Linked DNA regions of Homo sapiens. The protein of the gene in region 6 purifies or fractionates together with the protein of the main gene of each other region. This does not show direct contact. Each region holds a gene or a part of one and is shown on either strand. Other genes may lie near its edges.

Region 1 (4,243 bases), on a different chromosome or scaffold from region 6:
TCTTACTCATATGAGGAAAACTCTGTTCTATCACGACTGACAGGCATTTTCTTATAAATCCAAAAAGGCAGCACCTTTTAAAAAAAATATATCTACCTAAGCTTTCCCCCAACTGTACTTGCATTACATAGTAATAATTAATCTAATCTACCTGTAGGCAAACCCGCAATAAAAAAAACCCTCAGTGTGTTGTGCCAAAGCAAGGACAGAAAAACAGCAATCTTAACCCTGAAGCCTGTGATATTTGTGTCAAAGAAACAGCCTGTCTGCTCTGCATGGTTAAAGAAGCCTGGTTTATCAGGTAGCATCCCACACGATTCCACAGGGCACTCAGTCACATGGTTAACTGTTGAGGGAGGGGGAAAAAACTAATTTAAGAAATGCACTCAGTTTAAAAATACAAGAAACAAACATTAGGAGGAAAGGTAAATATACATTATCTTTACATAAAATAATTAACAATTACACAAAATTTGGAAAACAAGGAATAGGAAAAATATACTTAGTATTCTCTCCTCTTTGTTTCTACACATTTTCTTACTCAGCTATAATCTCATTTCAAATCATTTTAGATCCAGTTTACAACCTATGCTCAGGAGAAGGCTGACATAGCATTCTACAGAATTAAGTTAGCAGTAAGGTGATAATACCTGGCATAGTATGGTGGCTGAGAAAGGAAAGGATATAAGTCATTTCAAAGAATTAGGCCTGGTTACTGACAATAGGGCATGAACAAAAGGGATGAATTCAAGATGGCTTTAAGCCTGCTTGGAAGATGTAGGTGACATTGGCAGCGAGGCAAATCAGTGTTAGGTCTCAGCTTCTAATTCGAGTGGCCCTATTAATCTAGGGAGTACACTCTAGGGAAGGTGGTATGTGGTAGAATAGAGGCTTTGGAATTGGACAACATAGGCTTTAGAATTGGACAGAAATGGTTTCCAATCCATTGGCTGTGTGATTGAGCAAACTGCTTAATTTCTCTGAGCCTTATTTACTAATGTGTAAAATGAGAACTTAATGAGATGAGATTTCATTATTTCTCTCCAAGAAAGAGTTAACTGCCTGGTGCGGTGGCTCATGCCTGTAATCGCAGCACTTTGGGAGGCCCAGGAAGGTGCATCACCTGAGGTCAGGAGTTCAAGACCAGCCTGGCCAACATGTTAAACTCCATCTCTACTAAAAATACAAAAATTAGCAGGCCGTGGTGGCATGTGCCTGTAATTCCAGCTACTCAGGAGGCTGAGGTGGGAGAATAGCTTGAACCTGGGAGGCAGAGGTTGCAGTGAGCTGAGATTGCGCCACTGCACTCTGGCCTGGGTGACAGAGCGAGACTCTGTCTCAAAATGAATGAATGAATGAATGAATGAATGAATGAATGAATGGTTATGCCTTATAATTGTTTATCATGGCATAAAACATATTTTTGGAAAAAAGTCCATCAAAAATAGTTAAACAGCCAGGCATGGTGGCTCACGCCTGTAATCCCAGCACTTTGGGAGGCTGGGGCATGCAGATCATTTGAGGTCAGGAGTTTGAGATCAGCCTGGCCAACATGATGAAACCCTCTCTCTACTAAAAATACAAAAATTAGCCAGGCGTGGCATGCGTCTGTAATCCCCGCTACTTGGGAGGCTGAGGCTGGAGAATTGCTTGAACTTGGGAGGTGGAGGTTGCAGTGAGCTGAGATAGCGCCACCACTGCACTCCAGCCTGGGTGACAGAGTGAGACTCTGTCTCAAAAAACAAAAAAAAAAAGGGGGTCATGAGTTCACATCCTTTGAAGGGACATGGATGAAGCTGGAAACCATCATTCTCAGCAAACTAACACAGGAATAGAAAACCAAACACCACAGGTTCTCACTCGTAAGTGGGAGTTGAACAATGAGAAAACATGGACACAGGGAGGGGAACGTCACGCACCAGGGCCTGTCGAGGGATGGGGGGCTAGGGCAGGGATAGCATTAGGAGAAATACCTAATGTAGATGATGGGTTGATGGGTGCAGCAAACCACCATGGCACGTGTATACCCATGTAACAAACCTGCATGTTCTGCACATATATCCCAGAACTTAAAGTATAATAATTAAAAAAACATAGTCACTGATAATACCAAATAATTTTGTATGTTGGGATAGTATGGGAAGTTAACAAAAAAGGGAAAAACAATTTTGGTTTTTGTAGAAAAACTATGCCAACACAGTTAAAAAACAGAAAAGATGATGAAAAGTTTTATATGAATTTCTGCATTAAAAAAATTAAGTTGGTTAAAGCATTAAGGGCTAAAACTATGCCATGTACAGCAACTTATGACAATAAAATTAGACACAGAACTAAATAAATATAATATTGCATGTATTATTATTATTAAACTCTAACAAGAATAAGTTAAACTAATTTATAAAGTCACTGCAATTCACATACAAATACCTAAAAATGATGCCCTCTGTGGTGAAAAGCACAATTAGATTTCTGATTTTAATAGCTGTTATCCAATCATTTTCACATTGTTAAAAACGTTAGCATTTCAAATCCTTACCTAGTTTTTCCAGATGTATTTTTGACCACTTTCCGGAAAGACTGATTTGCAGTGGATCTTGTAGAAAGCGTTCGAGGGGAAGCACGAACAAAACCAGATGGTGGATTCTTAGGGATTTTCTTTACTAAATGAGTTACCCATTTTTTTTGTTCATCCTGAGAACATGCTAACAGCAGCATATCTCTTGCTGATGTTACATCATAACTTACTATGTTAAGGAGGAAAAAAAAAGCATAATTAAAGCCATATAGTTTTTTAAAATCCAACCTATCAAATGCATAGTTTTTCAAGTTCTTAAGGTTTTAAAAGTTTTAATATGCTTAATTAAGCATGAACAATATCTCATTCTCCTTAAGTTAAATAAGGCTGAAATTAAAAAAAAAAATTAGTCAAACTAATAAAGTAAAATCAGAAATATAACAAAATGTAAAACAAATAAATGTATTTAAAGAACATAAGCTTCTTATCTGAAAATAGCTATGGTCTGTATTCTTTCCCTCAAGCTACCTCTGTAAAACTAGAAGATATTCTGTGATACAGCATGCATGCTGATCCAGGCAGTGAATGCCAGACAAAAAGAAGAGGAAAAACTCAAGGGAGGAATAGAGTGGAACTCACCTGTTGCTCTTCTCTCCAACTTGGAATAATTTCTTAGCAGCATGTTTGTTTGTTTTTGTTTGTTTACAAGGGGGTGATTCTCTTTAAAAACACTGTTGGCCGGGCGTGCAATGGCTCACACCTGTAATCCCAGCACTTTGGGAGGCCGAGGTGGGTGGATCACCTGATGTCAGGAGTTCGAAACCAGCCTGGACAACATGGTGAAACTCCATCTCTACTAAAAATACAAAATTAGCCGGGTGTGGTGGCACACGCCTATAGTCCCAGCTACTCAGGAGGCTGAGATAGGAGAATCACTTGAACCTGGGAGGCAGAGGCTGCAGTGAGCTGAGATCACGCCACTGCACTCCAGCCTGGGCGAGACAGAGTGAGAATCCATCTCAATCAATCAGTCAATCAATAAAAATAAATAAAAACATTTTTAAAAGCTAAATCTGTAAATAGCTGCATATTGCCCCACCAGTGTCAAAATAATACTTTCTATAATCTCTTTTCAACTTGGTATAGAAATCACTACACATAAGTTAGTTCATTGAGACTTAAAATTAAATTTGTTATAAGTTGTAACAATAATTACCATGCCTTACCTTTACATGGACAAATTAAGTCCTCTTTCTTATCTAAGTGATCTCTGTGGCACTTAACATGGCATCTTCGACACTCTAGGGCAGGGGGTGGCTTAAAAACATGCCAGAGAGGTTTGGCACAGGCATCACAATTGGCAGGAAAGTGGTAGAGTGTAGGAATAAACTCATGGCCTTTGTGATTTTGGAAATTAGTTTTTTCAGCTTGTTGTACTGGTTCCATCTCTACATCTTTTCTACATTCACCTTCATTTGCATATAGTATCTACATTCAGGAATGGTGAAAGGAAAAGATTTTAAAAATCTTAAGCATTGGTATATTTTACATTTACTTCACAAAAACGCTTAGGACTTAGATTCTTTAAAATTATAACTTCAGATTTTTACCTGGAATATTTTAGGAATTTCTTCAGTTTCAGCTCTATACACATCTCCTTGGGTTACAGGTCTAACGTGAAACAGTTTACTAAAATGAAAATAAATACAGGCCATTTACAAAAACTCA
Region 2 (2,921 bases), about 20 Mb from region 6:
AACTCATAGCTGCAGGTAAGAACAGAAGCATTCAACTGGCTAAGCATGTAGATGGGCATTTTTGTGACATGCAAACTTTCAAAGAGAGGGTTTAATATGCCATCTTTCACGGCAATCCAATAAGATAGGGAAATAACAATACTATTGAATATGGCTAACCTTCAGTTCAATGTCTGTATCTAATTTTTAAAAAAATTATGTCATGGCTAAATTTTTCTAATATTCAAGCCAAGACTAAGCAGTTTATTTGTACTGATAATGCGATTTTTCAGCTATTACAAGCACTTAGTTAAAAGATCAACTAAGGCATCCTTAAAAAGTTTTAATACTTTTTCTCATTGTGCAGATTTCTTAAACTTACAGGACTGGAAACCGTGGTCCAGTTTAATATTTTAAACATAAATCTTTATGGTTTTATTTTTTACCAGGTGGCTATAACAGAGAGGAATGTCTTCGAACAGTCGAATGCTATAATCCACATACAGATCACTGGTCCTTTCTTGCTCCCATGAGAACACCAAGAGCCCGATTTCAAATGGCTGTACTCATGGTAAGCGCATTATGTTGCAGGAGCAACCCCTATTTAGCTTTTTCCTCGTAACTTCAGGATGTTAGAAATTCTCATCTCTCACTTTTGGCATAGGGCCAGCTCTATGTGGTAGGTGGATCAAATGGCCACTCAGATGACCTGAGTTGTGGAGAGATGTATGATTCAAACATAGATGACTGGATTCCTGTTCCAGAATTGAGAACTAACCGTTGTAATGCAGGTAATAATAGTTTTCTCCTGAGATATCCAGTATTTAAATATGATAATTAAATTATCAATATGTAACTTTATTTTATACTTACATAGGAGTGTGTGCTCTGAATGGAAAGTTATACATCGTTGGTGGCTCTGATCCATATGGTCAAAAAGGACTGAAAAATTGTGATGTATTTGATCCTGTAACAAAGTTGTGGACAAGCTGTGCCCCTCTTAACATTCGTAAGTTGATTTTTTTTCCTTTTTTTTTTTAAAGACCTTCAAATCAACAGTATGTGTAGTATACACTTAGAGTCTGGGAGATGTAGCAATAATCTTGACTTGACTTTTCTTGTAGGGAGACACCAGTCTGCAGTCTGTGAGCTTGGTGGTTATTTGTACATAATCGGAGGTGCAGAATCTTGGAATTGTCTGAACACAGTAGAACGATACAATCCTGAAAATAATACCTGGACTTTAATTGCACCCATGAATGTGGCTAGGCGAGGAGCTGGAGTGGCTGTTCTTAATGGTGAGTGTTGGGATTTGGAGAGGTGAAGAGTAGATAGTGGCAAGACTTTGTTCTAAAACTCTGAGAGAAAAGGCCAATGACTATAGTTGTACAGTTAAGAATTCAGAAGCAGTCATCTCTTTTGATGCAATGGAGATTAGGGTGATTTGTCCTTTAGAAATATATTTTCTAATCAAAGACTTATAATACTTGATATATAACTTAATTCACCAGTCTTTTGATGGGTGCACTGAGTGAATTTCCAAGTCATTTTCTTCTATAAAACATATCCTTAATGCATCATCTTGAATTTTGAGTTTCCCCTTCTTTACAGCCAGAATTTAAAGAATCTGATCTGCAAAACAAAGGCAAATCCCTAGTCTTTTCCAACTGTCTACTCCATACCTAATTGGAAATACAACCTTTAGACTATTTTAACAAGTTTCCAAAGTATTAAACTTTTTAAATGTAGACATAGCTTTCTTTCCACCTCCATTTTATTGACTTTTAATGTCTAATTATATAATCATAATTTAAAAGTTAGCATTGTTTTTGGTACCAGGCTGAACCTTAGCAGGCTTATGGCTCAACTGGTGAAGGCTTAAGTGTAGACACAGCCTGTTGGCCTAGAGCATTGTCAGCGTGCTTTACAGATACATAGAATGCAAGCTGGTTAAGTGATGGTCAAATGAAAAAATAATGAATTTGAGAATCAGTAATAAAATTTTTTCTAAGCTACGGAGTATTTATTGCTAACATTTTATCTATTTGAAAATAATCATAACTCTGTTTCCAGAAGAAATTTCTGTACCACAATCATTTTATTTTTTTAATTGAGACATGGTCTCACTGTGTTGCCCAGGCTGGTCTCGAACCCCTGGGCTCATGCAGTCCTCCCACCTCAGGCTCCCATAGTATTGGGATTATAGGCATGAGCCACCGCATCTGGCCCCAAAATCATTTTATACAGTTGGAAAGCCCTAAGATATTTTTCTGCTTTCCTATAATCTCTTCTGAGTCTTAATTCTGTACATTGGGCTGATATAAAGTCCAGTGCACAGAACTATTCTGGTTTGCTACTTAGTAGCTGCATCTGTAGGATAATTGTCCAGCTTCTTCCTGCTTTTCTTCTTCTCTGAAATAATAATAGTAACTACCACAGAGTTGGTGAAAATTGTACTTATTTAGATGCTGCTACTGCTTCCTCTCCCTCCCCCTTTTAAGTTGCCTAAGTTCCACGTGGGAATGGTTTTTTTATTGATTTGATTCCCAGCTCTTAGAGAGTATTTGTCATATTAGGCATTTAATAAATTCTTTTTGACAAAATGAACAGGCATTTCTATTTTTAAAACCACTGATTTTTAAGCAAAAGACAGATTTAGGGGAGTTTTACCTTATTACACTTTAATCTCTGGATTTACCCCATCTCATTTCTCTTTTAGGAAAACTGTTTGTATGTGGTGGCTTTGATGGTTCTCATGCCATCAGTTGTGTGGAAATGTATGATCCAACTAGAAATGAATGGAAGATGATGGGAAATATGACTTCACCAAGGAGCAATGCTGGGATTGCAACTGTAGGGAACACCATTTATGCAGTGGGAGGATTCGATGGCAATGAATTTCTGAATACGGTGGAAGTCTATAACCTTGAGTCAAATGAATG
Region 3 (4,243 bases), on a different chromosome or scaffold from region 6:
TTTTATCCTGTTTTTAAAGGGGGAAAAATGATTCAGGCCCCCCTCCCGTAAGTTTGGGTTAAAATGAAATAATGGGTTGGGCATGGTGGCTCATGTCTGTAATCCAGCACTTTGGGAGGCCAAGGTCAGAGAATCGTTTGAACCCAGGAATTCAAGACTAGGCTGAGCACCATAGTGAGACCTTGCCAATACAAAAGATAGATTAGATAGATAGATTGGATGGATGGATGGATGGATGGATGGATTGGGATGGACTGGGATGGACTGGGATGGATGGAGTAAATACTCATAGTAGATACCTTTTCACGAATGCTCAGTAAACTGTAGCTGTGGTTAAGGACTTGGCCTTAGTCATTTGTCCGAGAGCCTGTAGGCTCTGTCATGGCACTAGGCAGCTGCGTAAAAGGCCAGGCCTCCATCCCGACCTGTGTATTCTTGCCTGGGTTGAGCCAGCTCGGTTTGTGTGAGTATTCTTGTACCCCCTTCCAGAAAGGACTAGCTAAAAGACACCTGCTCTGAGTTGGCCATCAGCAGGGCATCGGGGGAGTTGGGAGCCGGTAGGAACTGCAGCTCTGGGTGCTGTGAAGAGGGCCCTGAGCCGCATCCAACTAAGGAAGTGAAATGTTGCTGAGCTCCCACCCTCCTAGGCAGAGGTCTGAGCCGCTGGGATGTGGACAGGTGACCTCTGAAGCGTTGTTCAGCTCCGCCACCATCCAGTTTGAGGGTTGCTTGGTCCCATGTTCTCTCCAGTCCTGTAGTGGGAGAGCAGAGGGGGTGGAGCTTGGATCCCTCTGTTTGCTGCTCAGGGCAAAAGACTTTGGGCTCTTGTTGAAGCTGGTTAAGTTACCTGTGTTCTTAGACTGACTGGAAGGCTTTTCCTCCCTTCTCAGTATGTGGGCACAGGTCCTTACTCCCGGTGACATGATGCACTGTAGGTGTCCCCTGCAGCCAGCTAATCCATGGTGGTATTTGTGAACACCTTCCTGCTTAGCATGGCCCTTTGCTCTCAACCCCAGGAGCTGAATGGTCACTTTGTAGCCCTTCCTTTGACAAAGGCCTCACGTAGGAAGACTCCTTTGTAGCCAGTGTGCTCACTCTTGAAAAATCCCAGAGTCTGCAGAAGATGGCTGCTTGCTGAGAGATGCTTCTGTCCCCTGGGATCACACACCCTGCTGCTGTCTGTGCTGCCTAATCCATCCGACAGCTGCTGCAAGTGCGGTTCTTGGCCGGTGTTACCTACTGAGACATGGGGGAAGTAAAGGGAAGTGACAAGCCCAGGGGACCTGGAATCCTTGAGGGGAGCCAGTCAGTAACTCCATCCCATTGGTCATGTTTCCCTTGCCAGTGTTACTCTTTGGCTCTTGGGGAGTGGTTTTGGGGCCTGAGAAACTTCCCCATGCTCCCAGCCCCAGCTGTGCCTCAACCTAGTCAGCATCCCTTCCATTCCCTCAACATTCTGGTTTTTAGCTGTTGTTTTCCCACAAGCTGCTAGAACTGGAAAAGATTCTACCCTGCAGCTTGAACAATAGACGAGATTTGTGGAGCTAGGATGCATCTCAGGGTTGTGCCGGCTGAAGGCCTGGTGTGACCTGGAGGGGGCACAGGGCAGGCTGCTCCTGGGGAGCTGTCTCTTTGATTTACAGACTGCCTGAGCCCAAGTTTCTCCATCTAGAAACAAGGAAGCCCTGCTCTGTCGGGCCCTAGGGGCTTCCGTCAGGTGACAGACCATATCCCGTTCTCATCCCTAATGCTGCCATCACGCACCTTCTAGAGTTTAGCAGGAATGATGAATGTGACAAGTCTGTATGTTGTAGGGGGTTCCGATTTATGGCAGCCTTAACATAGAAAACCATCTGTTTTCCCTGGTCCCAAGGTGGTTCTGTTTCAGGACAAATGTGTAATCATTCTTGGTTTTAAAAATCTCTTCTCAGCCGGGCGCACTGGCTCACGCCTGTAATCCCAGCACTTTGGGAGGCTGAGGCAGGCGGATCACCAGAGATCAGGAGTTCAAGACCAGCCTGGCCAACATGGTGAAACCCTATCTCTACTAAAAATAGACACAAAAAAATTAGCCGGGCATGGTGGCGGGCGTCTGTAATCCCAGCTACTTGGGATTACAGTTGGGAGGCTGAGGAGAATTGCTTGAACCCAGGAGGCAGAGGTTGCAGTGAGCTGAGATCACGCCACTGCACTCCAGCCTGGGCGACAAGAGCAGGGAAAAACAAAAACAGAAACCTCTTCTCACACTGTCTAGCTGTGATACCTCAAGCAGGTGTCTTCACCTGTCTTACAGATGGGGATGGTTAAGGATTGCCAGAGTTGCAGTGCCTGGCTGGCTGCACTCCAGTGGCAGCTGCTTGGGGATAAGACTAGCACGGTGACCAGTCGGGCTGTCACCTCAGACTAGGAGCCCTTGACATCAGCCAGCTGGGGGAGCCAAGGGCAGTGAACATTTTTCTCCACCCCCAATCCCTGCTCTTCATTCCTGTTTCTGGATCCCTACTGGAGTACCTCCTGCTGTTTTTGGATGAAAGAATAAAGGGTCAAGCATCAAAGATGATGTCCTGGGGACTGGGACCTGGGGTAGCAGGTGGAAGGGCCTTGTTTGATGTCTCCCTATTGCCTCCCCGACCCACACTGGCTGGACTACTGCCCAGGACAGAAGAGGGGGGTTGGCTGTGAGTGGGGAGGAGGTGGAAGCGGTAGATTCCCAGCACAACCTTCTTCCTCCCACCCCCAAAACCTCCATCTGAAGAAGGCCTGAGGAAGCTGTCAGGCTGCCTGCCTGATTCATCCCTTCCCTCTGGGCATAGCCACTGAGTCTGCTGGGCTGATGCTTCTGAATACAAACTATGGCACCTGGAAGGCACTGCAGAGAAAGGGGGGACCTCAGGGCTCCCATTCCATCACTCTTGAGTCTAGGTCATACCCTCCACAATCCCCAAGAGGCCCGTACTGTCTCTTCTGATGGGACTCCTGGGTTCTGTGTTGCCCACCCTGCAAATCTGCATGCCAGCAAGTATGGGTGACCCGGCTGGCTGCTGGGTCACCTTCATTTGGGTGCTAGCCTTGCTGCCTTCCTTTGGTGCTGTTGAGATTGTCCTTGCCGTGTTCACTCCCAGCGCAGGCATGCCCTGGCCCCAGGCTGTGGCTCCGATTCACTCTTACTGCCATGCTTTGTTCTCATTTTTTGCTTCCACAGTAAGTCTGCACAAAATACTGTCCTCACAGCTGAGCTTACCTGGTGATCTATTCTTTTTTCTCGGTCACTACTTGTCCAGCTTTTTTTTTTAGACTTTTGGAGACAGTGATTGACAACAGAACCTAGCAGCCAGGGCTGCGCTAGTCCCCTAGCCCCCTCCAGAGCCTGTGTCAGGCATATGACTGACTGCATCCTCTCCCCTCTCTCTCCTCTCTGCCCCAGATCAGTGGACCATCCCCTGCCCGGATCCTCTCTCTCCACAGACTATGGCAGCTGGCAGATGGTAACGGGCTGTGGCAGTATTCAGGAGCGGGCTGTCCTGCACACAGACTCCTCTCTCCCTTTCAGCTTCCCGGATGAGCTCCCTAACAGTTGTCTGTAAGTGTCTTGCTTGAGAAGGCAGGATGCTCCCCTGCCCATGGGAAAAGCTGGTGAGCAGTCAGGAGTGCTGGGTAGGAATGAGGCTGGCGCTCAGGAGCTGGCCTGGCCTCCTGCCCTCCCCTCTCTCAGCTGCTGGACCCGAGGTATGAAGGAGGCCTGTGGCTGGTCAGGAAGTGCACTGGTTTGTGTGTTCACTCTGCAGCCTCTAAAACCCATCCACTGGTGTCTCAGGTGCACCCAAAGGGAAAGCTGCTGGACTGTAACTATAGAAGATTCTATTTCTGTATAAGCCTTTGCCTGACATGAGAATCGTTTGAAGGCAGAACAGTGGGATAGTGAAGGTAGGTGTATGGTGGAGGCCAGAGCCAGAGTGGTGCTGGGTTAGCCCGAAGCTTTGCTCCTGAGCAGAACCTAGGGTTACTTGCTGTCTCTACCCGCCTTGTCTTCTGTTTTTGCCTCTGGGCAGGAATAAGAATTGGATGGGGATTCTAGATCCCACACCTACAAAACCCTGAGTTTCCAGCCCTTAACAGTGTGTCCACCTGACTGGAGCAGCTGCCTCTGGGGAAACCACCTGCCCCTGGCCTGTTCTGCCGCTTCATGGATGTCAGGCAGGAGAAAGCCTCTGGTGGCCAGGGGAGCAAGCCCTGCTCCTCAGCT
Region 4 (4,243 bases), on a different chromosome or scaffold from region 6:
CAGCCCCTCAGAGGAGGCTCGTCTTAAGGAGGGATTTCACCCTCACCCCTCACAGCTCCTCGGAGGAGGCCCATCTTAAAGAGGGATTTCACACATGCTGTCAGGCAGGGTCAGCCCCGAGGTCTGACCAGGTGGCAGCCTCACTGTGCCCGCCACATGTGCGTGGATCGAAGCTACCCAGATGCAGTCAGGGGTCACGGCTGTGCAGGCTGAGTCCATCTGGGCGGCACAGGCCTCCATTCTGCATCCCAGCATGGTGCAGAGCACAACCCTCTCGGCCACACCTCGGCGCTGCCGAGACCTTCCCCTGCTTTGCTCTCCTCCCCAGCACTGGTACAATCCAATGCCCCGCACCTCCCAGCCAGTTCTGTCTCTGCACTCTAGAACACAGGCCCCACGGGGGTCGGGATGCCTGCCACCTCCTCGTGCCTGGCTTGGCACGCAGCGGGTTCCGAGATGAGCCGACCCTCTTTCAGGTTTGGTAGGGCAGGTTTGCAGGCCCTACCAGAGAATGCATGTTTCTACAAGTGTGGGGAAGGACTGGGACCTGGCCTCCACCACCAGGAAGAGCAGCCCCCACGGCTGACAGGACACACCCCTACCCCAGGCGAGACACAGCGCTCACTCACCTCCAGGGAACATGGTGAGCGCCTGCTGTATCAGGAGAGAGGCCTTCTGCCTGGCAGAGCTCTGCTCACACTCAGGGAGGTCTGTCTGCTGGCTCAGCAGGAAATACGCCAGTGGAACAGAGAAGGCAAAATTAGGGAGCTGGGACAGGTTCCGATGAGCCTACGAGGGACGAAGAAACAGAGCGTGGAGCCTTAAGTCATAAAGACAAAATATGTGAGTTTGCAGACGCTCTGACATCACCAGTGAGCCCTACCCCGAGCAGGTATATTCTGCAGGCAACGCAAGGGCCTCTTCCTAACTCAGCATAAAGATAACTTAAAACGTCCACCTGGGGGGCTTTCCGCATGCAGAAGATACAGAGGACGTGGGAGGGCCTGAGAAGTAGACTGAGCCGGAGCGAGGACACCGTGGGGAGTGAGGGTCCCACCTGCCGCCCAGGCTCCTCTCTGAAGCTGAGCAGTTGGTGCTCTCAATGTGGAAAATTTACAGACGAGAGCAGCCCACCCCCGCGCGAGTCTGTGAGAGCAGCCCACTGCCGCGCGAGTTTCCGAGAGCAGCCCGCCACGCGAGTTTCCGAGCAGTCTACCACCGTGCCAGTTTCTCTTGCCTTTCTCAGCCTATGTCACATATTGTAGACATGTGACTCACTGCATTTTTTTCTATCAAAATGGGATCACAGACTCACAGTTTTGTGACCTTAAACACCATCATCAACATTCTTCTGCAGCCCCATTTTGGGGGACTCCCTGAGGTTTCCCTGCACCTACATTTTTGTGAGCTCCAGGAATTTCTATAAACCACATTCCTGGGGGTGAGACTTCCTGGCCAACTATGCCAAATGCTTAAAAATTCAAAATAATTTACCCACTTTCATTATCCATGAACATGTGCTATGAAAAAAATTCAACACAGAAGCAGAGAAAGTCAAGAGCTGTCGCCTTCTCCCCAGCCCCAGGCCCTGCTGGAGGTTAGCGTTACAAAGCCCGTGTCCTTCCAGATAAGTGCTGCCCCATAGGAACATAATGGGAGCCCAGGTGTCAATTTAAATTTTCTTTTTTTTTTTTTGAGACGGAGTTTCACTCTGGTTGCCCAGACTGGAGTGCAATGGCGCGATCTCGGCTCACCGCAACCTCCACCTCCCAGGTTCAAGCGATTCTCCTGCCTCAGCCTCCCGAGTAGCTGGGATTACAGGCATGCACCACCACGCCCAGCTAATTTTGTATTTTTAGTAGAGACAGGGTTTCTCCATGTTGAGGCTGGTATCAAACTCCTGACCTCAGGTGATCCGCCCGCCTCGGCCTCCCAAAGTGCTGGGATTACAGGCGTGAGCCACCATGCCCGGCCCAATTTAAATTTTCTGGGAGCTGCATTAAAGACAAAACAGGTGAGATTAATACGTTATATCTAACCCAATACACCGAAATTATCATTCCAACACGTGTCTGTGTTAGAGTTACTGGGGACAGAGCTCAAGTCTCTCCTGCTGTACTCACACTCTTCCCATGGAACAGGACAGACGTGCTGGGGGTCCCTGTGTCAGCCCCACGCAACCAACCCTCCTTCTACCTCCCGGCTGCATCTTCCTGAACTGCCCATGAGGAGCTCGGGAGTTGTCGGTTTTTCATCATTACCAGCATCACAGTCCTTGCAGGCACACGTGTGCATGTGTACACACGTTTGAGCATGTGTACACACGTATGAGGATTCTGACATAAGGCTGCTGTACTGTCCCTAGGAAAACCACATTCCACTCCGTAGAGGCGGCAAGGGAGACAAACAAGGCAGGAGGACGTGGTTCTGCCCTCAGACGATTATCGTTTCATCCCCAAACGTCCCCTGAGCGCACAGATACTGAACCAAGAAAACAGAAGGAGAAGCAGGTGTCCGTCCCTCCACGGGGCCTCACCAGGCTCGCACCCACCTCCCACTCCTGGAAGAGGCGGATCAGGTACTCGTAGTTCCGGGCCCGCAAGGCCAGGTGGTCGATGAGCAGCAGCATGCAGAGGGGGTCCTCATCCGGCTCGAGACTTCCGGAGGCAGCACAGAGAGCAGAGCAAAGGGGAACAGGGGCATCGTCAGGCTGAGAGTGGGCCTGCAGCCAGGACAGGGAGCGTGGACGGGCTTGGCCCTGAGCAGACACTCACCTCAGGATGAGCTTGCAGTACTCCAGCGCCGTGCGCGGGCAGCCTCGCTTCTCCAGGAAGCTCATCTGCTTGTAGAGGGCCAGGTAGAAGCTCCTAGATCCAAAATAGTTCCACATGAATTACAACGACACAAAGGAGAATGCTCTCTGCTCAGCGCCCCGGCCAGCACCCACTCCACCCCGCCCTCTGCTCAGCGTCCTGGCCAGTACCACCCATTCCACCCCACACACTGCTCAGCGCCCCAGTCAACACCCGCTCCACCCCACACACTGCTCAGCGCCCCAGTCAACACCCGCTCCACCCCACACACTGCTCAGCGCCCCAGTCAGCACCCGCTCCACCCCACACACTGCTTAGCGCCCCGGTCAGCACCCGCTCCACCCCCATTCTGCTCTCTGGGTTCTGCTGGCATTTTCTACGTGCCCAGCACACAGAGATCCATGTCTGGAGAGGAGGTGTGCGCTCTCCTTGTCCTTTACAGAGTTATACACGAATTTGCATACTGAAAATCAAACTTCTTTGAAATCTTTTTTTTTTTTTTGAGACGGAGTCTCGCTCTGTCACCCAGGCTGGAGTGCAGTGGCGCTATCTCGGCTCGGCTCATTGCAAGCTCCGCCTCCTGGGTTCATGCCATTCTCCTGCCTCAGCCTCTCCAAGTAGCTGAGACTACAGGCACCCGCCACCACACCCAGCTGATTTTTTGTATTTTTAGTAGAGACGGGGTTTCACCGTGGTCTCGATCTCCTGATCTTGTGATCCACCTGCCTCGGTCTCCCAAAGTGCTGAGATTACAAGCGTGAGCCACCACGCCCCGCTGAAATCTTTATCTTGTTTTTTTGTTTATTATTTATCATTTACAGGAAGAGAGTTAAAATCTCTTGTTACAATTACGATCTTAATTTATCCTCCAATCTCAACAGTGGCTAACAGCACTCAGGCTGGATACATGGAGCCCTGTGACTTTCGGATGCTGGTGGGCTGCTACTTCCATCAACAGCCCACTGTCTCTTTCGCGTCGGGAAATATTAATATTTTATAATCTACTTCAAAGAACTAAGAATTTCATTGGAAGAGACAAAACTAACATAAAGAAAACCAGTGGAGGAAATTCAGACCCAGCACACAGTGCAGACAATCTGTGCAGAACGGGTCAGCGGACCTTGGCTTGCCAGGAGGGCTGAGAGGGTAGGAGCGGATCCCACACTGCAGACAACCCAGGGCGGCCAGAGAAACAGGGCACTGCACACAGGAGAGGCAGGACAGCGGACAGAAGCTGGTCTGCTCCACAAAGGGCCCACAGGACAGGCTGCGGGAAGGCCTGGCGGAAGCCAGTCTAGGTCTGACCAGCGAGGCCTGATGCCAGAGGGATGGCTTTAGGGGCAGAAGTATCTGAAAGAAGAGAGACCTCCACATGCGGTCGCTCAGCACAGGGGAGCGAGGGTCAGGCTGACTCTGAGCTCCTCACTGAT
Region 5 (4,243 bases), on a different chromosome or scaffold from region 6:
GCACTGGGCTTCTCTCCCTGCCCTCCCCTCCCCTCCTGCACTGGGCTTCTCTCCCTGCCCCTCCCCTCCCCTCCCACACTAGCCTTCTCTCCCTGCCCTCCCCTCCCACACTGGGCTTCTCTCCCTGCCCCTCCCCTCCCGCACTGGCACTGGGCTTCTCTCCCTGCCCCTCACCTCCAGCACCGGGTTGCTCTGTAGCAGCCGGTCCCGCACGGCACCTCCGCGCTCGGGGGCTGGGCAGGTCTCTGCATAGAACTGCAGCAGCCTCTTGGTGGCCTCGGTCTTGCCTGCCCCGCTCTCCCCAGAGATCATCACAGCCTGGTCCCGACGCTCCGTGCGCAGTGCTCGGTACACAGTGTCCGCCACGGCAAACCTGGGGCGGAGGCTCGTCAGGGAGTTTGGGGAGGGGGGCCAAGCAGAGCCCCACGAGAGTCCCGCTCCCACATCTGGGTGGAGTCCTCTTGTGGGAGTCGAATACACCCTTGAGGATGGGGACTGGGGGTCCCTCACAGGTGTGGGCCATGGGAGATCCGTCATAGCTGAGAATGGGCGTCACCGCCAGCGGGAGGACTGAGAGGCTCTCACAGGTGGGAGGCTGGAGGTCACTTAGGTGGAGGCTGGAGTCACTCACGGGTAGGGCTGGGGGGGGTCTTTGCAGGTGGGGTTCAGAGGTCACTAAGATTGGGGGGCCACTCCCAGTTGGGGAATAAGTCATGGGTGTGAGTCGGGGTAGGGACTGAGTCCCACCCACATGGAGCTGAGTTGCGACATTCATCTCTGGTCACTGGGGGGCAAGAGACTGTGGGATTCCTCACAGATGTGGCGCGGGACGCCAGGATCATTTCAGAGTAAGGTAAGGGTTGGGCGGGGTCACCTCAGATGGAGACAGAGGGGTCGCTCCCGGAGGGGCTGGGGTCACTCACAGGTGAGGGGGCACTTCATAGAAGCTGACGCCACGGTAACGCTCCATATGCTGCCGGCTGTAGATCTGCAGGTCCCGGTAGGGATTGACAGAGACCAGGACGGGGCCAATGTAGGTCTGGGATCGGGGGAAGAGGGTCCAAAGTTTATCCCGGGCCAGGTGCGATGGCTCATGCCTGTAATCCCAGCACTTTGGGAGGCCAAGGTGGGCGGATCACCTGAGGTCGGGAGTTCAAGACCAACCTGACCAACATGGAGAAATCCGTCTCTACTAAAAATACAAAATTAGCCGGGCGTGGTGGCGGGTGCCTGTAATCCCAGCTACTCGGGAGGCTGAGGCAGGAGAATCGCTTGAACCCGGGGGGAGGAGGTTACAGTGAGCTGAGATCGCGCCACTGCACTCCAGCCTGGGCAACAAGAGTGAAACTGTCTCAAAAAAAAAAAAAAAGTTTATCCCGGTGACCCTTGGTGTCTCTTTCCCCTCCGCTTGCCTGTGTCTGTGACCCCAGCACCCCTGCCATCTCCCCACAAGGGCCTCACGTAGATGAGATTCTCCCGAAATCGCCGCCGCAGGTTCTCGATGAAGGCGGCCTCGCTGGTGAAGTTCTCCAGCAGCACGAAATCCTGCACCCCCACCCGGTCACGGGCGGTGAGCGCACTCTCCATGGTCACCCGAACCCCGTCACTGCCCAGGGCCTGCAGAGAATGGGCCACAGAAGAGGGTCAGAGTCATCGGGGGCGGGGCAAGGCCACTTCCCTGCGCCTGTGGGACTGAGAGGGAACGTAGGGGCTTGTGGACTCCGGGCTAGACACGGGACATGAGCATGACGGGTGCGGGGGGCCTGGGTGCTGAGGGCCTGGGTGTGGTGGGCCGGGTGCGGAAAGCCGGGTGTGGAGGGCCCGGGTCCCAGTGTGGCAGCAGAGGGATCACCGAGGCTGCGGGCACAGAACAGAGACAACATGAACCACTTGGGACTCGGACACAGGGCATGGACGCAGGCAGGACCAGAGGGCAGAACCCGGGAGGTGCTGGTTTTGGGTGGAGAAAGGGGGGGTCACAAGAAGGAACTCCTTGAAATAGCAGAAAGACTGCTCTGTTGAGCTTGGACCAATCCCCTCCTCTCTCTGGTTCCTTCCTCCTAAAGGAGGAGGAGTTGAGTTAGACCAGGTGACCTCAGGTCCCTCAGCTCTGAGCCACGTGTGACAGGTGCTTTGGAGGACAAATGGCTCAGGGTCAATTCTGCAGGCAGGGTGGGGCCGTCTCTCCCACCCAGACCCACCCCCACCTCCACCGGTAGAGCGTCGAGCACCAAGCAAGAGGTTACTCCCAGACTACACCAGAGGGGTTCCCCCAGAGGGCCTCCCACCCCAGCTGGGCTCAGCCACCCACTCCAGAACGCGGGGGAGGCCCTCCCTCGCATGGCTGGGGCCACTCCCTTTCCTCCAGCTGCTGGGCTCCCCAGGCACCTCCTCCACTGAGAGTCCTGAGAAGCCTCAGGGGATGGGGGCTTTACCATGGAAAGCCCAGCTGCCTCTGGGTCCTACTGGAGGGTGGAGGGTGGTGCAGGCTGAGCAAGACCCTCGCCCCACAACCAGGGCTGAGATGGATCCCTCTTCAAACAGGGTCTCAGGGCTCCAAAAAATGGACACCCAGAGTATCCAGGGTCAGAGAAGAACAAGGTGGTGGTGATTGGGGGTGGATCCCAAAGGGGCCGCCGGTGTCCTCTGACCACGAAAGGCCCAGATTTCTGGCCGGGGGCCTGCCCCTCCCAGGCTTGTCCTCACCGCCCCGCTCCAATCCCGCGCCGAAGCGGCTGCCAAATCCGGCCGCGGTCCCCGCCCCCTCGCCCTCGGGTCAGGGGTCTCCGCGTTCTCAGGCGTCCCCGGCGGCTCCTCATCCGGCCCCGGGTCCGAGCGTCCCGCGCCGCCCTCCCCGCCTCGGCCTCCTCCCCCTGCAACTTCCCGGGACGTTTTTCCACCCGGAATTCCTGGGCCGCGCCCGCTTCCTGGCGAGGCCGAGGCGACGCCGCGAGGTGGGGAGGGACGCCCGGGACCCCCCGCCCTGCCCCGCCGCCCCCAGGCTCACCGACGCCCGGTAGCGCATCCTGCCCGGCCGGCCTGGCGCCCGCTCCGCTGCCCGCGCTCCGGGTCCCGGGCTCGGCGGCGGTGGCGGCGGCGTCAGCGAGGGAGGGCCCGCCCCCCGCACCGCCCCCACCCGGGCCCCTGAAGCGCGGGGCTTCCCCGGCCTCCCCCGCCTCCCGCGCGGCCGGGCTGGGGTCCCCTCCAGGTGGGGTTGGTGGAGGTGGGGGTGTCGGGGCGGGGGGTCCGCGGGCCGGGGGCGGGGGCGGGCTCCGCCTGAGTCAGGTTTTCCAGGAGGGACGCCGTTGGCACCAGGGTGGAGCCCGGAACCCGCGCGGCCGCCGCGTCTACACCGACCCGGAACTCACTTCCGGGCCTGGGACTACACTCCGCGGCGGGCCTGGGCGCTGGGCGGGCACCGAGGCCTGCGGGTCCCAGAGGAAGCGGGATTTTCCTCCCCCAACCCCCGAACTCGAGTCCCGGGAAAGTTAAAAATAGAACCAATGTCCAAATACGGCCGGCGCGCCCGGCGGGCGGAGCGTTCTCCGTGCGGGACGCCGTCCACCCACACGCGCCGGGGCCTGGTCCGAGCCTCGAACCCAGGAAGATCTTGGTTTTCCTCGTCAGCACGGAGCTCGCGCCCCAGGGACAGGGACGGCCAACGGGTGCCCTGGCCGAGCGCGCGGAGTACCCGGCCCCTCTGGAGGGCTCAGTTCCCCCTCTGGGAAATTCGCGTCCCCCCCGCCCACGGCATTTGGGGCCCACAGCCTCTCCCCACCCGGGACACCCCACTCGCCTCTGGGCCCGGACCTCCTCCCTCCCTCCTTTTTTTTTCTGTTTTTTTTTTGAGACGGGGTCTTGCGCTGGCTCCCAGGTTGGAGTTCAGTGGCGCGATCTCGGCTCACTGCAACCTCTGCCTCCCGGGTTCTAGCGATTTTCCTGTCTCAGCCTCCCGAGTAGCTGGGATTACAGGCGTGCGCCACCACACTCGGCTAATTTTTGTATTTTTAGTAGAGACGGGGTTTTACCATGTTGGCCAAGCTGGTCTGGAACTCCTGACCTCAGGTGATCCACCCGCCTCGGCCTCCCAAAGTGCTGGGATTCCAGGCGTGAGCCATCGCGCCCGGCCCATCTCCCTCCCTGCTTTGAAGGGGGCCTCCCTAGTCCCTCCGGATCTCCGGGACGCCCCCCACCTCCGAAGCGGCCTCGGCAGAACCTCCCTCGCTTGGCTCTGCGGGCACCA
Region 6 (4,243 bases):
CTCAGCTCACTGCAACTTCTGCCTCCCAGGTTCAAGTGATTCACCTGCCTCAGCCTCCCGAGTAGCTGGGACTACAGACATGCACCACCACACCTGGCTAATTTTTGTATTTTTGGTAGAGATGGGGTTTCACCATCTCTACGGGAGGCTGGTCTTGAACTCCTGACCTCAGGCAGTCCACCTGCCTTGGCCTCCCAGAGTGCTGGGATTACAGGCGTGAGCCACTGTGCAGGGCTCTTTCACCATTAAGTGGTTGATCTTACCAGCTTTCCTGTCTGGAGATAAACTGGAATTTCTGAAGGAAGTAAGAACCTTAACAGATACTATGTTCTAAATTCCTTTTTCACAGCCGGGCGCGGTGGCTCACGCCTGTAATCCCAACACTTTGGGAGGCCGGGGTGGGTGGATCAGTTGAGGTCAGGAGTTCAAGACCAGCCTGGCCAACATGGCAAAACCCCATCTCTACTAAAAATACAAAATTAGCTGGGCATGGTGATGTGTGCCTATAATCCCACCTACTTGGGAGGCTGAGGCAGGAGAATTGCTTGAACCCAGGAGGCAGAGGTTGCAGTGAGCTGAGATCACACCACTGCACTCCAGCCTGGGTGACAGAGTGAGACTCCATCTCAAAAAAATAAGTAAATAAATTCCTTTTTGCTTACTCAGGATGTGTATGGCTTATACCTTTGGAATTGTTTGAGACTGCAGTTCAGGGAGTTCTAATCTGCACAGATATTTGGTTGAGAGTGGTAAGCAATTAAAATCCTTCAGTTTTTATGTAACATATTAGTTCAGTTGTTAATAAGACATTTAAATGTTCTTGCCTTAACTTCTCCATAATAGTAGGGACTGTGTTTGGTATGGCTAGATGAATTTAGGTGATTTTGAAAGTTTTAAGTAAGTGATGTCTACTTCTAAAATGGAGAACCTCATTACCAGCTTTTTCTTTTTTTTTTTTTTTTTTTTTTTTTTAAGACAGACTCTTGCTCTGTCACCAGGCTGGAGTGCAGTGGTGTGATCTTGGCTCACTGCAACCTCCGCCTCCCGGGTTCAAGGGATTCACCTGCCTCGGCCTCCTGAGTAGCTGGGACTACAGGCGCACGCCACCATGCCCTGCAAATTTTTTCTGTTTTAGTGGAGACGGGGTTTCACCATGTTGGCCAGGCTGGTCTCAATCTCCTGACCTCGTGATCCGCCCTCCTCGGCCTTCCAAAGTGCTGGGATTACAGGCATGAGCCACTGTGCCTGGCCGATGCCAGCTTTTTCATGAACTATGGGATATAAGTTTATAAGAAAGGATAAAAATGCTTTTTTTTTTAACCTACAGAATATCATCAAAAAAGTGAATGGTCAGAAGTTTGTGTACAAGTTTGTCTCTTATCCAGAGATTTTGAACATGGATCCAATGACAGTGGGCAGGATTGAGGGTGACTGTGAAAGTTTAAACTTCAGTGAAGTCAGCAGCAGTTCCAAAGATGTGGAGAATGGAGGGAAAGATAAACCACCTCAGCCTGGTGCCAAGACCTCTAGCCGCAATGACTACATACACTCTGGCTTATATTCTTCATTTACTCTCAACTCTTTGAACTCCTCCAATGTAAAGCTTTTCAAATTGATAAAGACTGAGAATCCAGCCGAGAAACTGGCAGAGAAAAAATCTCCTCAGGAGCCCACACCATCTGTCATCAAATTTGTCACGACACCTTCCAAAAAGCCACCGGTTGAACCTGTTGCTGCCACCATTTCAATTGGCCCAAGTATTTCTCCATCTTCAGAAGAAACTATCCAAGCTTTGGAGACATTGGTTTCCCCAAAACTGCCTTCCCTGGAAGCCCCAACCTCTGCCTCTAACGTAATGACTGCTTTTGCCACCACACCACCCATTTCGTCCATACCCCCTTTGCAGGAACCTCCCAGAACACCTTCACCACCACTGAGTTCTCACCCAGACATCGACACAGACATTGATTCAGTGGCTTCTCAGCCAATGGAACTTCCAGAGAATTTGTCACTGGAGCCTAAAGACCAGGATTCAGTCTTGCTAGAAAAGGACAAAGTAAATAATTCATCAAGATCCAAGAAACCCAAAGGGTTAGAACTGGCACCCACCCTTGTGATCACGAGCAGTGATCCAAGCCCACTGGGAATACTGAGCCCATCTCTCCCTACAGCTTCTCTTACACCAGCATTTTTTTCACAGGTAGCTTGCTCGCTCTTTATGGTGTCACCATTGCTTTCATTTATTTGCCCTTTTAAGCAAATCCAGAATTTATACACTCAAGTTTGCTTTCTGTTACTTAGGTTTGTCTTAGAAAGGTTATGTGTGACTGTCATGTGAAAGTTACCCCATTTCTCATCTTAATTAGGATTGCTAAAATAGAAAGTTTGGAGTATTTTCTTAAAAAATTCATTGTTCTACAAGTAAATAAATATTTTGATTTTTCTATTTCCTCCTAAAGAAAGTACACACACTCTCTCGCTCTCTCTCGGTCTTATAAAACTCGTTGGTGTCTTATAAAACAAACAGTGATAATCTCAAGTTAGAAAACAGTAGGTCCTGAGAACCATAAGAAAAATGACTGGTGTGATGTTGAGTAACAAGTTGGTACAGTTACTTTAGCTATTTATTAACTTGCTCATCTCATAGAACATTTTAGTAGATTTTTCACACACCTCATTATTAAAAAAAAACAAACATGCTGGTGTCTTGGTTACCCATTATTCCTCTGTACCTGAATTCAGGTTGGTTTTTCTATTTGGAAAAGACTTTATAAATGTTGGCTTAAAAAGAGGTTGAGCACCAGAATCTCAGAATTTACCACCAAAGAACTCATCCATGTAACCAAAAACCACTTGTACCCCCAAAAACTATTGAAATAAAAATTTAAAAAATTTTAAGTAGTTATTATCACCTTTATCCCTCTTAGTTTGTAAAAATAATTTTTGAGTTTTGTCATGATAATATTTCAGACTTGGAGATATTTGGAGTGGAGGATAGGGCAATATTTAGGTTTGGGTTATTTGTGTGCTGTTTCAAGGATAAAACATCCTGGTAAGTCAGTCAGTGAATATTTTTGCTTTGTGTATTGCAGACACCCATCATACTGACTCCAAGCCCCTTGCTCTCCAGTATCCACTTCTGGAGTACTCTCAGTCCTGTTGCTCCCCTAAGTCCAGCCAGACTGCAAGGTGCTAACACACTTTTCCAGGTAATTTTATAAATATCTGTCTTCTGTAGTTGGAGCATGTTAAATGAAGAAAGAGGCAAAAAGGCAGGGTCCCACTATTCAGTTTAATCATTATAAAACTTCTATTTAATGAATATTCTTTTTTTATTTTTTTGAGATGGAGTCCTCACCATGTCACCCAGGCTGGAGTGCAGTGGCATAATCTCAGCTCACTGCAACCTGCACCTTCCAGGTTCAAGCGATTCTCCTGCCTCAGCCTCCGGAGTAGCTAAGATTACAGGTGTGCAACACCACGTCTGGTTGATTTTTGTGTTTTTAGTGAGACAGGGTTTGACCATGTTGTCCAGACTGGTCTCCAACTCCTGACCTCAGGTGATCCGCCCACCTTGGCCTCCCAAAGTGTTGGGATTACAGGCATGAGCCATTGTGCCCTGCCCAATGAATATTCTTTAGATTTATTTTTGAATTTCCAAATATTAATTTTCTAGCTGGCAAACAGCTTGAATAAATATAGCAAAGTTTCATTTTCATTATTTACTATTACATACATTTGAGTTAGACCAAGAATTGTTCAATACTGTAGGAGATTTAGAGCCTACCCCAAGTTTTTGTCACTAGAAATTCTCTATTTAAAAAAAAAAAATGGGCCAGGCAGTGTGTGTGTCATGCCTGTAATCCCAGCGCTTTGGTAGGCCGAGGCAGGAAGATTGCTTGAGCTCAGGAGTTTGAGACCAGCCTGGACAACCTAAGGAGACCTTGTCTGTACTAGAAATAAAAAAAATTAAGTTAGGCATGGTAGCACGTGCCTGTGGCCCCTAGAGCTACTTGGGAGGCTGAGGTGGGAGGACCGCTTGAGCCCAGTAGATCAAGGCTGCAGTGAGCTATAATGGCACCGCTGCACTCCGGCCTGGGTGACACAGTGAGACCTTGTCTCAAAAAAACAAAATCCACACACACACACTCTCTCTCTCTCTCTTGCTCTCTCTCTCTCTCACACACACACACACACACATATATGGGGGATCTCTGCACATAGGTTCCCTCTTTTAATTAAA
Region 7 (4,243 bases), on a different chromosome or scaffold from region 6:
GCAGGCCAGGCCCGGTGGCTCATGCCTGTAACCCAGCATTCTGGGAGGCCAAGGCCAGAGGATTGCTTGGGCCCAGGAGTTGGAGACCAGCTTGGGCAATATGGCAAAGCCCAGTCTTTATAAAAAATACACAAAAATTAGCCAGGCATGGTGGCGCAAGCCTGTAGTCCCAGGTACTCAAGAGGCTGAGCTGGGAGAATCATTTGAGTCCAGCAGGCAGAGGTTGCAGTGAGCAGAAATCACACCACTGCACACCAGCCTGGGCATCAGAGTGAGACCCTGTTGCAAAATAATAATAGTAATAATAAAACAATATAAATGATCCAGGTTCTCAAGGTGTAGAGAGAGAAGCTTGTTCTCTGGGGGCAGCTGCCTCAGCTTAAAAGACTTTCCTGACCATCCACTTCCCTATCTACCATTTTCTTTCCTCCCATATGCTCTACTTACCCATTCTTCCCCATAACAATCTCTATTTCTTACACTCAAAAATTTGTCTGTTGCAAAGGGCTTTGGCATAAAGTGTTCTACCGTGTCATTCTATTTTAATAATAATCTTACCAGCCAGGCACAGTGGCTCACACCTGTAATCCCAGCACTTTGGGAGGCCGAGGCAGGCGGATCACCTGAGGTCGGGAGTTCAAGACCAGCCTGACCAACATGGAGAAACCCCATCTCTACTAAAAATACAAAATTAGCCTGGCGTGGTGGCGCATGCCTGTAATCCCAGCTACTTGGAAGGCTGAGGCAGGAGAATCGCTTGAACCTAGGAGGCAGAGGTTGCAGTGAGCCGAGACCACGCCATTGCACTCCAGCCTGGGCAACAAAAGCGAAAACTCCATCTCAAAAATAATAATAATAATTTTACCATACTGCATACTTTACAGTCATATAAAGAACTATAATCCTCTACCCTTAATACAAATAAATGCTTAAAATGAAACACTAAACAAACAAAAAACCCACTTTAAAATCCATTTCACTAACCATGTGCTTCCACATCATATTCTTCTCCATCGTAGTCATCTGAATCCTCATCCTCAGGATCTGGATGCAAGGCCTGGCATTCGCACATTGCAGTGAACATTGCCTCCACTGAACAAGGAAATTAAACTGTAACCAATCTTTTTTTGTAATAAAAGTAACCATCAGTGCAAATAAATTTAATGGGTACACAAAACGCCACAGTATTTACAAAATCTGCCAAATTGTAAGATCAATCTTGAAAGCGGTTGAAGCAAAAGACAAGTCATAAAATAATAAGAGTTCATTATGAGAGATCATTGCAATCTCTTCATGGCTCGTGGGATTTTCCAAGAAAAAAGGGTCAGAGTCCTGGTAAGACTGCTGGCATCAGGGTGAAGGGTGAAGACTGCTCTCAGCTGATAGGGCTCTTTCCAGCCATCCTGAGATCTTCCACTTTAAAACTGCCATAACTCCTCTGCCATCCAGCAGGTGAGATTAAGTCAACAGCACCAATCAGTAAAACTAACCAGAGTCCACTCACAAAATATACCCAGATGACAGAGTGTCTACAATATTCTCACTACATTCACAACCTTTGATATTAATAGGTATTTGGTCCTTAATGATATTACCAATGCTAAAATAAAGAAAAAGCAATAGAATGGAGGTAATGGTGGTAAAGGTGAGAGGTGTGTGTGTGTGTGTATGTGTGTGTGTGTCAATTGGGAATGCTTGGTATGTAAAAGGGGAAGAATCAATACTGTAGAACACTCACACGCTGATTTATCACTAGGCACAAATCTAAATTCAGTAATAGGTTCAACATCATCATCACTGTCTTCCTCTTCTTCATCAGCAACAGGTTCTTTTGATTCTTCTAGAAAATAAAATACCCTTTTAATGTCATTATTTGACTTTAAAAAAATGAAGCATATTGAAAATCTGAATATTGCAATTCAATTTTAATTTCCAATTATGGTTGACAAATTTATTTCCAATTATGGTTGAAAAATTCTGATTATACAGTGAGCATCCTAGAAAAGCCTTGCCTCGATCTCCTGACCTCGAGATCCACGCACCTTGGCCTCCCAAAGTGCTCCCTCCGCGCCTCACCGGGAATGAATTTTTAAGGTTATTTTTAAGGTAATCTAATCTCATCAACAATGAGCTAAGGGTCAACTTTTTTTTCTGAGACTGGGACTTGTTTTGTTGCCCAGACTGGACACCCTTGCCCTCTCAGGCCCAAGCGATCCTCCCACCTCAGCCTACTAAGCAGCTGGGACTACAGGCACTTGCCACCACACCCTGCTAATTTTTGTTTTTTTGAGATGGGGTCTTACGATGTTGCCCAGGCTGGTCTGAAACTCCTGGGCTCAAGTGATCCTCCTGTCTTGGCCATTCAAAATGCTGGGATTGTGGCTGGGCACGGTGGCTCACGCCTGTAATCCCAGCACTTTGGGAGGCCGAGGTGGGCGGATCACGAGGTCAGGAGTTTGAGTCCAGCCTGGCCAATATGGTGAAACCCCGTCTCTACTAAAAATACAAAAATTAGCAAGGCGTGGTGGCAGGCGCCTATAATCCCAGCTACTCAGGAGGTTGAGGCAGGAGAATCATTTGAACCTGGGAGGTGGAGGTTGCAGTGAGCCAAGATCACAGCATCGCACTCCAGCCTAGGTGACAGGGTGAGACTCCATCACAAAAAAAAAAAATGCTGGGGTTACAGATGTGAGCCACTATGCCCGGTCCTGATGGTCATTTTTTTTTTTTTGAGACGGAGTCTTGCTCTGTCGCCCAGGCTGGACTGCAGTGGTGCCATCTCGGCTCACTGCAAGCTCTGCCTCTTGGGTTCACCCCATTCTCCTGCCTCAGCCTCCTGAGTAGCTGGGACTACAGGCGCCCGCCACCACACCTGGCTAATTTTTTTGTATTTTTTTTAGTAAAGACGGGGTTTCACCGTGTTAGCCAGAATGGTCTTGATCTCCTGACCTCGTGATCCGCCCGCCTCAGCCTCCCAAAGTGCTGGGATTACAGGTGTGAGCCACCGCGCCCAGCCCTGATGGTCATTTTTAAAGAGACTTACAGAGGTATGCCAAAGAGAAAAAAAAAAAACTTAGAGCTTAGAGAATCAGAATGCAAGGAACAAAGGCTGGGAAAATATGATTCAAGCACATGTAATTTATGAGAGGAGTTTAAGATAAAAAGAACTAAAGGGCCAAGCGAGGTGGCTAACGCCTGTAATCCCAGCCCTTTGGGAGGCTGAGGTGGGTGGATCATGAGGTCAGGAGATGGAGAGCATCCTGGCCAACACAGTGAAACCCCAACTCTACTAAAATACAAAAAAAAAAAAATTAGCGGGGCGTGGTGGCGGGAGCCTGTAGTCCCAGCTACTCGGGAGGCTGAGGCAGAAGAATCGCTTGAACCCAGGAGGCAGAGGTTGCAGTGAGTCAAGATCGCATCACTGCACTCCAGCCTGGCGACAGAGCAAGACTCCATCTCAAAAAAAAAGAAAAAAAAAAAAGGAACTGGAGAATTAGTGAAATAAATGTGACCCAGAAAGATACTAATTTCTAGTAAGATAGGAAATCCTGCATATCTTACTAAGAAAGGATTAATCATAATCACATCAATTACAACCAATCATATAGATTCTGTATGATTATAGAGCACATATTTAAAACACACACCCTAAAACCTACTGAACTGCTTTTTCCTAGTTTAGGACTCAGAGCATTTGCATTTTAAACAAGCTTCCCATGTATTTCTAATGTGTATCCATTAGTCTTGAGTTTGGGAACAAGAGACTAATATACTCCCTTAACTTTTTGGATGAAATTCAGGCTCAGAGAAATGCAAATGACTTGCCTAGCAAGTTAATGACAGAGTTCTTACTTTTTTTTCTTTTCTTCGACCGTTTTGCTCTGTTGCCCAGGCTGGAGTGCAGTGGCGCGATCTCAGCTCACTGCAACCTCCACCTCCCGGGTTCAAGTGATTCTCATGTCTCAGCCTCCCGAGTAGCTGGGATTACAGGCACCCGCCACCACGCCCAGCTAATTTTTGTATTTTTAGTAGAGACAGGGTTTCACCATGTTGGCCAGGATGGTCTCGATCTCTTGACCTTGTGATCTGCCCCCCTTGGCCTCCCAAAGTGTTGGGATTACAGGTTTGAGCCACTGTGCCCGGCCTAATGACAGAGTTTTCTTATTCAATGTGCTTTTGCCCTTAGGCTAGTATTTATTAAATGCTATTTCCTAAGCCTTTCTCTTGGCATGTACCTTTCCCA

The links.
Region 1: the proteins of ELK4 (region 6) and ROCK1 purify together in Homo sapiens (affinity purification with mass spectrometry; one large-scale study listed by BioGRID and IntAct). This does not show direct contact.
Region 2: the proteins of ELK4 (region 6) and IVNS1ABP purify together in Homo sapiens (affinity purification with mass spectrometry; one large-scale study listed by BioGRID and IntAct). This does not show direct contact.
Region 3: the proteins of ELK4 (region 6) and MTMR14 purify together in Homo sapiens (affinity purification with mass spectrometry; one large-scale study listed by BioGRID and IntAct). This does not show direct contact.
Region 4: the proteins of ELK4 (region 6) and TCF25 purify together in Homo sapiens (affinity purification with mass spectrometry; one large-scale study listed by BioGRID and IntAct). This does not show direct contact.
Region 5: the proteins of ELK4 (region 6) and MYO1C purify together in Homo sapiens (affinity purification with mass spectrometry; one large-scale study listed by BioGRID and IntAct). This does not show direct contact.
Region 7: the proteins of ELK4 (region 6) and CLNS1A purify together in Homo sapiens (affinity purification with mass spectrometry; one large-scale study listed by BioGRID and IntAct). This does not show direct contact.

The regions. Positions count from the first base shown.
Region 1 is NC_000018.10:20,951,042-20,955,284, forward strand, and holds part of ROCK1 (rho-associated protein kinase 1), read right to left. Parts: intron 4,205-4,243; coding exon 4,126-4,204; intron 4,004-4,125; coding exon 3,742-4,003; intron 2,745-3,741; coding exon 2,537-2,744; intron 347-2,536; coding exon 343-346; 3' UTR 1-342. UniProt on the Homo sapiens protein: Protein kinase which is a key regulator of the actin cytoskeleton and cell polarity.
Region 2 is NC_000001.11:185,298,066-185,300,986, reverse strand, and holds part of IVNS1ABP (influenza virus NS1A-binding protein), read left to right. Parts: coding exon 1-15; intron 16-428; coding exon 429-550; intron 551-643; coding exon 644-770; intron 771-856; coding exon 857-988; intron 989-1,103; coding exon 1,104-1,277; intron 1,278-2,698; coding exon 2,699-2,921. UniProt on the Homo sapiens protein: Involved in many cell functions, including pre-mRNA splicing, the aryl hydrocarbon receptor (AHR) pathway, F-actin organization and protein ubiquitination.
Region 3 is NC_000003.12:9,694,287-9,698,529, forward strand, and holds part of MTMR14 (phosphatidylinositol-3,5-bisphosphate 3-phosphatase MTMR14), read left to right. Parts: exon of another isoform or gene 1-1,239; intron 1,240-3,424; coding exon 3,425-3,580; exon of another isoform or gene 3,581-3,924; intron 3,925-4,049; exon of another isoform or gene 4,050-4,243. UniProt on the Homo sapiens protein: Lipid phosphatase that specifically dephosphorylates the D-3 position of phosphatidylinositol 3-phosphate and phosphatidylinositol 3,5-bisphosphate, generating phosphatidylinositol and phosphatidylinositol 5-phosphate.
Region 4 is NC_000016.10:89,897,181-89,901,423, reverse strand, and holds part of TCF25 (ribosome quality control complex subunit TCF25), read right to left. Parts: intron 2,868-4,243; coding exon 2,775-2,867; intron 2,658-2,774; coding exon 2,552-2,657; intron 790-2,551; coding exon 630-789; intron 1-629. UniProt on the Homo sapiens protein: Component of the ribosome quality control complex (RQC), a ribosome-associated complex that mediates ubiquitination and extraction of incompletely synthesized nascent chains for proteasomal degradation.
Region 5 is NC_000017.11:1,482,687-1,486,929, forward strand, and holds part of MYO1C (unconventional myosin-Ic), read right to left. Parts: intron 3,446-4,243; exon of another isoform or gene 3,369-3,445; intron 3,075-3,368; exon of another isoform or gene 3,026-3,074; coding exon of another isoform or gene 3,008-3,025; intron 2,889-3,007; exon of another isoform or gene 2,439-2,888; coding exon of another isoform or gene 2,436-2,438; intron 1,618-2,435; coding exon 1,462-1,617; intron 1,040-1,461; coding exon 924-1,039; intron 374-923; coding exon 175-373; intron 1-174.
Region 6 is NC_000001.11:205,617,923-205,622,165, reverse strand, and holds part of ELK4 (ETS domain-containing protein Elk-4), read left to right. Parts: intron 1-1,327; coding exon 1,328-2,200; coding exon of another isoform or gene 2,201-2,338; exon of another isoform or gene 2,339-2,898; intron 2,899-3,092; coding exon 3,093-3,209; intron 3,210-4,243. UniProt on the Homo sapiens protein: Involved in both transcriptional activation and repression. Interaction with SIRT7 leads to recruitment and stabilization of SIRT7 at promoters, followed by deacetylation of histone H3 at 'Lys-18' (H3K18Ac) and subsequent transcription repression.
Region 7 is NC_000011.10:77,623,979-77,628,221, forward strand, and holds part of CLNS1A (methylosome subunit pICln), read right to left. Parts: intron 1,841-4,243; coding exon 1,739-1,840; intron 1,093-1,738; coding exon 985-1,092; intron 1-984. UniProt on the Homo sapiens protein: Involved in both the assembly of spliceosomal snRNPs and the methylation of Sm proteins.